Homo sapiens: one gene and its partner. The protein of the gene in region 1 purifies or fractionates together with the protein of each later gene. This does not show direct contact. Each region holds a gene or a part of one and is shown on either strand. Other genes may lie near its edges.

Evidence for each region. Proteins that work in one complex are often made in the same cells at the same time.
Region 2: the proteins of STYK1 (region 1) and HEATR1 purify together in Homo sapiens (affinity purification with mass spectrometry; one large-scale study listed by BioGRID and IntAct). This does not show direct contact.

What each region holds. Positions count from the first base shown.
Region 1 is NC_000012.12:10,632,553-10,636,052, reverse strand, and holds part of STYK1 (tyrosine-protein kinase STYK1), read left to right. Parts: intron 1-1,366; 5' UTR 1,367-1,434; coding exon 1,435-1,486; intron 1,487-1,928; coding exon 1,929-2,063; intron 2,064-3,500. UniProt on the Homo sapiens protein: Probable tyrosine protein-kinase, which has strong transforming capabilities on a variety of cell lines. When overexpressed, it can also induce tumor cell invasion as well as metastasis in distant organs.
Region 2 is NC_000001.11:236,594,517-236,598,016, forward strand, and holds part of HEATR1 (HEAT repeat-containing protein 1), read right to left. Parts: intron 3,464-3,500; coding exon 3,362-3,463; intron 2,461-3,361; coding exon 2,320-2,460; intron 1,529-2,319; coding exon 1,317-1,528; intron 1,158-1,316; coding exon 1,024-1,157; intron 1-1,023. UniProt on the Homo sapiens protein: Ribosome biogenesis factor; required for recruitment of Myc to nucleoli. Involved in nucleolar processing of pre-18S ribosomal RNA. Required for optimal pre-ribosomal RNA transcription by RNA polymerase I.

The DNA of each region.
Region 1 (3,500 bases):
ATATAAGCTATACTTCTGATTTTTGTTTTATGTTTTTATCAAGTCACTACAAAACTGGATCACATATTTAGACTTATTTAGCAGAAAATCATATTTTCTTTCAAGTTAATCAGAATTAAAGAAGTAGGCTTTGTTGACTATAGAACCATGGGAGTGTCTTGTCAAGCAAAGGCAAAATATAAATTTAGGAGAGGTATGGGACAGTGGTAAACATGAGTTCTCTTTGGAAAGAAAGAACCAAGTTTCTAGGGCTGTTATTTGAAATATGTACTGATTATATTATATAGACTTAACAGTGATACACATAAAGAATCCCTTGCCAGACAAACAAGAAACTAATAACTAGAGTCTACTTGGAGGAGACTGGAGGAGAGTTAAGAACTGGATAAATGGAGAAGAATGGGGGGGAGAAATATTTTTATGCTATACAATTTTACACTACTATTTTTTGAATCATATGAATGTATTTTCTTTTTATTTAAAAGAGAAAGAGAAGGTGGCTTGGTACTGATACTTCCTTTATATCCTTGTAGCAATGAGTGTCCGTGTCTATATCTGATATGAGCAGAGGAAGCACCTTGAAGCTCTGAGGGATGAGGAATTAAATAGTTTTTATTGATAAATGCTGTCTGTTCACTGCTTGTGAGGGTGTGGATATTTCAGAGAAACAAAGCAAATGTGTAACTCATATCCTTCGACATCTGTCAATTTTTTATTTGTTATCTGAATTAACTGTGTGTAAAAATGAAATTAAATGTTTTCTTTAGAGCTAGAAATGGTAGCTCATGCCTGTAATTCCAGAGACTCAGGGGATTGAGGCAGGAGGATTAATTGAGCCCAAGAGTTTGAGATTTAAATGAGCCATGCATGATCACACCACTGCACTCAAGCCTGGCTACAGAGCAAGATCCCAACTTCAAAAAATGTTTTGCTTAAAAAATATGATGCACAGCTAAAAAAAATATATTAGACATGCTTAATACTGTAGGGGAGGTAGATCATGCCCACATAACCCATGGATCACAGTTCAGATGGATGTTTTGAATCTGTACTTGATCATGGGAGCAGAAGTCTCGGGTGGGAGGGGAGACTTTAAAATAATTTCAGTAACAGTTGAATGAAAGGACAAGAGCAGATCAGAGCTCTTTGCTGTATAATAGAGAAAAGAGAAACGCTGAGAGGAAGAGAAGGTTGGGAGGGTTCTTCCAACCTGAATATCAGCTAGGTAGATAGAGATAAACGGATGACTCAGAGAGGTAGCCATTTACTTAACTAGTGATCTGTAGAGGCGGTTTAAAATTCTGTGTGTACTTCATTTATTTTTTTTCATTCATTTTATTTTTTTCAAAAACCACTCAATCCTTAGGAATTACTCACAGCTGTGCTGTGTGCATTCTCTGTGGGCCTAGCAGGGAAGGGGACAGCCCTGTGGCAATGGGCATGACACGGATGCTCCTGGAATGCAGTCTCAGTGACAAGTTGTGTGGTAAGTACGGATTCCACAGATGTCTATCCTCTGATTTTAGAATTATGAAGGCTAAGGTCTCGGTAGATTCTAGAAGGAGGATGATTTGATTTCCAGTAGAAATGAAGACAGTGGTGATAAAAGGATGGGGACTAGAGGCCATTGTCTTTTTGGGGAGAGGGTAAGTGCTAATCAGTGATCCAGATGCTGCATCTTCAATCTTGGTAAGAAACTGCCAGAAGCAACGTCATGCACATTTGATGGGCTAAGAAACAGAGTCACTGGGGTTTCTGGTTAGAGAGTTGCTCCCAGCAGTGTTTCTGTTGAATGGAAGTAGAGGAGATGGTAGAAGAGATGACCTTTTCATGTATGATGAGCTGAGAGCTGGCGGGTAGGGGAAATTGCATGAACACCAGGTTAGGCTTCTTCATTCTCTTCTCTTCCTGTGTGATCGCCTACCCAGTCATCCAGGAGAAGCAGTATGAAGTGATTATCGTCCCAACTTTGTTGGTTACTATCTTCCTCATCCTTCTTGGGGTCATCCTGTGGCTTTTTATCAGAGAACAAAGAACTCAACAGCAGCGTTCTGGACCTCAAGGTAAAGCTCAAACTTTGGGGCTGGGCAGGGGCTTAAAGAAGATGGAGATTAGGAAAAAGTATGGTCTAAGTTTCAATGAGCCCATGTCTAGAAGTCTAGGTACCTGCAATGAGAGAGGCATGGGTTCCCTCCCATGGAGTTGAGAGGGGGATGATCTCTTTTCTAGGAATTCCCGAGTTGGAATTCAACACGTGCTTACTGACTGAAAAAAGAGTGTGCAAGAAAAACCTCATATAACCTGTTTCTATTCCTGTTGGACTATCAAAACTTTGACTATATGAGTGCCTAAGGACCTAGGAGAAAGACCTAAGGGGGTAAAGTCCAAGGCTTTATGAACATCCTAGGAGGATGACATATCACCCTATGATACGTTCCATTCCTAATCTTTGCCTCCAGGATATATGATGGAAAGGAGGGGCCTTTATATTATAACAGTCTTTGAAGTGCTAAGTAGATGATAACAGTCTGTTCTGGAGTTCCACTGAGCATATAATAAAAGGGAATCAATTCACAGATGAAACTCAGGGTAAAAAGAAGGAAAAAGAAAACTCTCATAATGATATGAAACTCTATAGTGGCTAATCCTTAGTTTTTCTTTAAATTTTATCCCAATAGTCTTATACTTCACTTTTATAGAAAACTTCTCAAACAAGTTGTCTAAACTCACTCCTACTACTTCTACTCATCACATTCTCTTTTGAACACACTAAAATAAGGTTTTCATCTCTACCACTTCGCCAAAACAAGTCTTTCCAAGGTCATCAATGACAGCTGCATTGAAAAGTCCAATGATCAATTCTTAGTCTTCGTCTTACTTGATCTGTCAAAAGCATTTGAAACAATTTTAAACTTTCTCTTTCTTGAAATACTGAAAAAACTAAAGCCACTTCCTAAATGCTATAATTTTTAGTCTTATGGATTCAAATACATTTTCTATTCCAATGATAGTCCCTTGAACTCAATTCTCATATTAAACCACCTACTGCACAGTTTCAATGGAATACAAATCTCATATGTAATATGACCAAAACAAAGGTCCTGAAATTCTCTCATAAATGTCCTCCGCAAATAGTCTTGCCTATCTTAGTAAATGGCAAGTCCTGTCTTCTGTGTTTTCAGTCTCAAACCTTGAAGATATCAGTCTCAAACCTTGAAACACAGTTTGAGACTGTGTTTTCAGTCTCAAACCTTGAAGATAACTCCTTTCTTTCTCTCACAGTCTGTATCTAATCCATAAGCAAACACTGTTACCCTATTTTCAAAATAAACCCAAGTTACTCTCACATCTCACTGATCACTGCAACACACTCTTAACATTCCCTGCTTCTGCCCCTACTCCTTTATAGAAATGCCAGAATGAGTCTTTTAATACAGTCAGTCCTGTTAGTTATCTGCTTGAAATCTCTCTTCCACACACACACATGCAGTAGCCTCCCA
Region 2 (3,500 bases), on another chromosome or scaffold:
ATTTATAATAAACATATGAATCTGATCTTAGCCCTTGCTTTCAAAGACTGGGACATTACTCATTACCTTCAGAATAGGAAGAATACATTTTCATTTTGCTAGTCACTTTTCTAAAATGCATGTTCAAACCAAGATTTGGTTACAAAAACCTCATTTTTCAGTAGACTGACATAAGTTTAGAGAAGTCTTTCTTAGTATTCTCCAAGTAGCAACAGAACCAAATGTTTCTTCCTAGCCTTTCTGTATTTATTAAAAGACATAATGCAAATAATCACTTTCTAATTATTATTATTATTTTTGAGATAGGGTCTCACTCTGTCGCCCAGGCTGAACTGCAGTGGCACAAACACAGTTCCCTGTAGCCTCGAACTCCCTGGACTCAGGTGATCCTCCCACCTCAGTCTCCCGAGCAGCTGGGACCACAGTTGCATGTCACCATGCCCGGTTAATTTTTGTATATTTTTGTAGAGACGGGGTTTTGCCATGATCTGCCCATCTCAGTTTCTCAAAGTGCTAGAATTATAGGTTTGAGCCACCTGGCCCTCTAATTATTACTTTTTGCTTTTTGCTTTGTTTCATAATTTGGATTTTTATGTATAAAAATTTTCTTGGTCTTATATTTTTAATTACTCTAGGGAAAAAACTTTTTTGGCAACTGGATGAGATATTCATTATAAATGAATCACTAAAGTTCATTAAATACCTAAATGAGAAGGCAAAGGTTTACTCAGTAATAAATTTTAAAAGTATTCCAGTCTTTTTCATGTAGAGACTATTTAAGTATTTAAGAACACAGATCTTAAAAAAAGTAAAATTCTAAGAAATTACTCAATTAACAATGATCTTTCTTCAACCAACCTGCTCCCCACCCCAGATGTTTCTCACTTAAGAAATAGACAAGTTACACAAGAACAACTGGAAAACAGAAATTTTAAATATTTTGAAGCTGTTAACCAGGATATGGTTACTATTTTAAGATCAAATCTTAGAAAATTTCTGGACAAAAAATATAAAACCACACACCTGTAACATGATGAATGATGGAGACGACCAGATGGGGAAGCATGTAATGCAGAAGAGGACTGACATCGTAAGTTTCAGAAATCCCATGAAGTATTGTAATAAGATCAGGAACATTACATAAGTGAGGGAATGGCCTTTGAAGAAGCAAAAGTACATATCGTGTTGACTTTACAAGTTAGACAATGAGTAACAATATAAGAAAATATATAATCACTTATCTTACAAAAAAAAATTATTCAAAATAATTTTATTCACCTCTGACTAGCACCATTTCTCAATTCAATTGTACATACTTTTTCCCAAGGCTCTCTGGCTTCTGTCTCTGCAGGAGCACTATCAAGCAACTTAACCCATCCTTGATCAAAGAGGGAATCTTGGTCAATGTTTTGATGATCTGTGATGCCAATGAATTCACAAAGGTATTTTCCATGGTCACTTTCACAGAAATCTGACATATTATCATGTATGTTGCAGCTCTGTAATCTGGTAAAGATGATTTCAATCCCTAAATATTTTTTAAATATAAGGAAAAATGATAAACCATATTATTTTCTGCTACTTTAAATGTTAATCTGACAAATTAGAAATGTCATAGAGATTAATACAACCTAATGCATAGTCAATCACTCTTCAGACATAAACAATAAAGGAGCTGACCCCTTTTTCAGAGTGGATACAGAGATGAGACAAGTCTGTTGAACGAGACAAAGGATCTCAGAAAATTTCCCAACTCAAACATCTACCACATGTCCTGACAGGAGCCAGTAAGCTCTTCTTTTATACATAAAATCCTACTTATAGTAGGGAGACCTCAATCAGATCACTAATGGAAGAAACAAGTCTGATGAAAGGTCACAAGTTGGGACACTGGTGGGAAGTGAAAGCAGTACCTCCACAGGGCACCTGGGAAGGCAGCAGGCAAGAAGGCACTTGGGAAGGAGAAACGCTGAGAGGCAGGAGCCAGTGCACAAAGAATACTGAGAGGTTGCTTACGCCTCAAAGAGACTGTCTGCTCCGTCCTCCTTCCAGTGAGGTACAAAGACTGCTATGGAAATCAATCTAGGAGATGGCCGCAGGACCAGACAGCCAATATTTATTCTTAAGAGTCCTAATTAAGGTCCCAGGCCAGTGAGTTTCTAATAAAAAAGTGTCATATTTTCAACCTAAAGGCTAAATCTCAGCTATCATCTGAAATAAACTGTCAATTTAAAAACACTTAAATCTAAAAAAACTTTCGAAAGCAAGAAAATTCCTTTAAGTACAAAATAATCTACTTAACACATCAGCAGTGCCAACCTTTTGGATATAGGGAAATAGTTTGGCGATGATATTGTCTGATACGTCCTCTGCAGCTACCAGCGCCGACACTATGGTAGAAGCATAGAAAGCCAAGAGCACCCTCAACTGAGCTGAGCTGCCCGGGTACTCAGCAAAAACCTGAAACAAGGAACACAAACAAAACACATTTAACAGTGAAAGGGAGGTAGAAGGATTGCTTGAGGCCAGGAGTTCAAGGCTGAGATTTCAATGAACTATGATGGCACCACTGTACTCTAGCCTGGGCGACAAAGCAAGTCCATGTCTCCAAAAAAAAAAAAAGTGAAAGGCCAAATAAATATTTACAGCTCTCCTGAATTACCATATGCAACAATGAATACACAATGTGACAACAATTAACTGCCTAATGATATTCCTAACATTTTTATTTAAAAAAAAATTTTTTTTTTTTTTTTTTGAGATGGAGTCTCTGTCGCCCAGGTTGCAGTACAGTGGCATGATCTTGGGTCACTGCAACCTCCGCCTCCCAGGTTCAAGCGATTTTCCTGCCTCAGCCTCCCGAGCAGCTGGAATTACAGGCATGCCCCACCATGCCCAGTTTATTTTCGTATTTTTAGTAGAGACGGTGTTTCACCATGTTGGCCAGGCTGGTCTCAAACTCCTGACTTCAAGTGATCCGCCTGCCTTGGCCTCCCAAAGTGTTGGGATTACAGGCGTGAGCCACCGCACCTGGCCTTAAAATTTTTTAAACAGCTTTCCCAGGTTGAATATTCCCGACATTTCTAGACACTCTCTTTGAATAGTCACTGTAACTAGAATCTGGCAAGGAATAGACATTTATTTTTGTAGAAAAACACCTTTGGTGATAAAAGACTGATTCTTAAAAAAAAAAAAAAAGATACGGACTCTCAAACTGCTCCTGCTTCAAAACACCAGACCATTTAACAAAATAAATTTATCCAAAGTATCATTGTTATTAGGGAATGTTTTAGTATGTTTTCTTCATTCAAAGCAAGCAATCTTTTCATAAAATTATATACTCATGAAACAGACTGCTCACCTTCACAGATTTTGTCACCAAACTGCAAATGAAATCCATGAATCCAAGATCTTTGTAGCAGTGGGTAATCAAAGTTCCTTTAGCTAACGGCACTCCAGATTGCTGTTATTGATGGAAAGAACAAACTACTAGCAACATT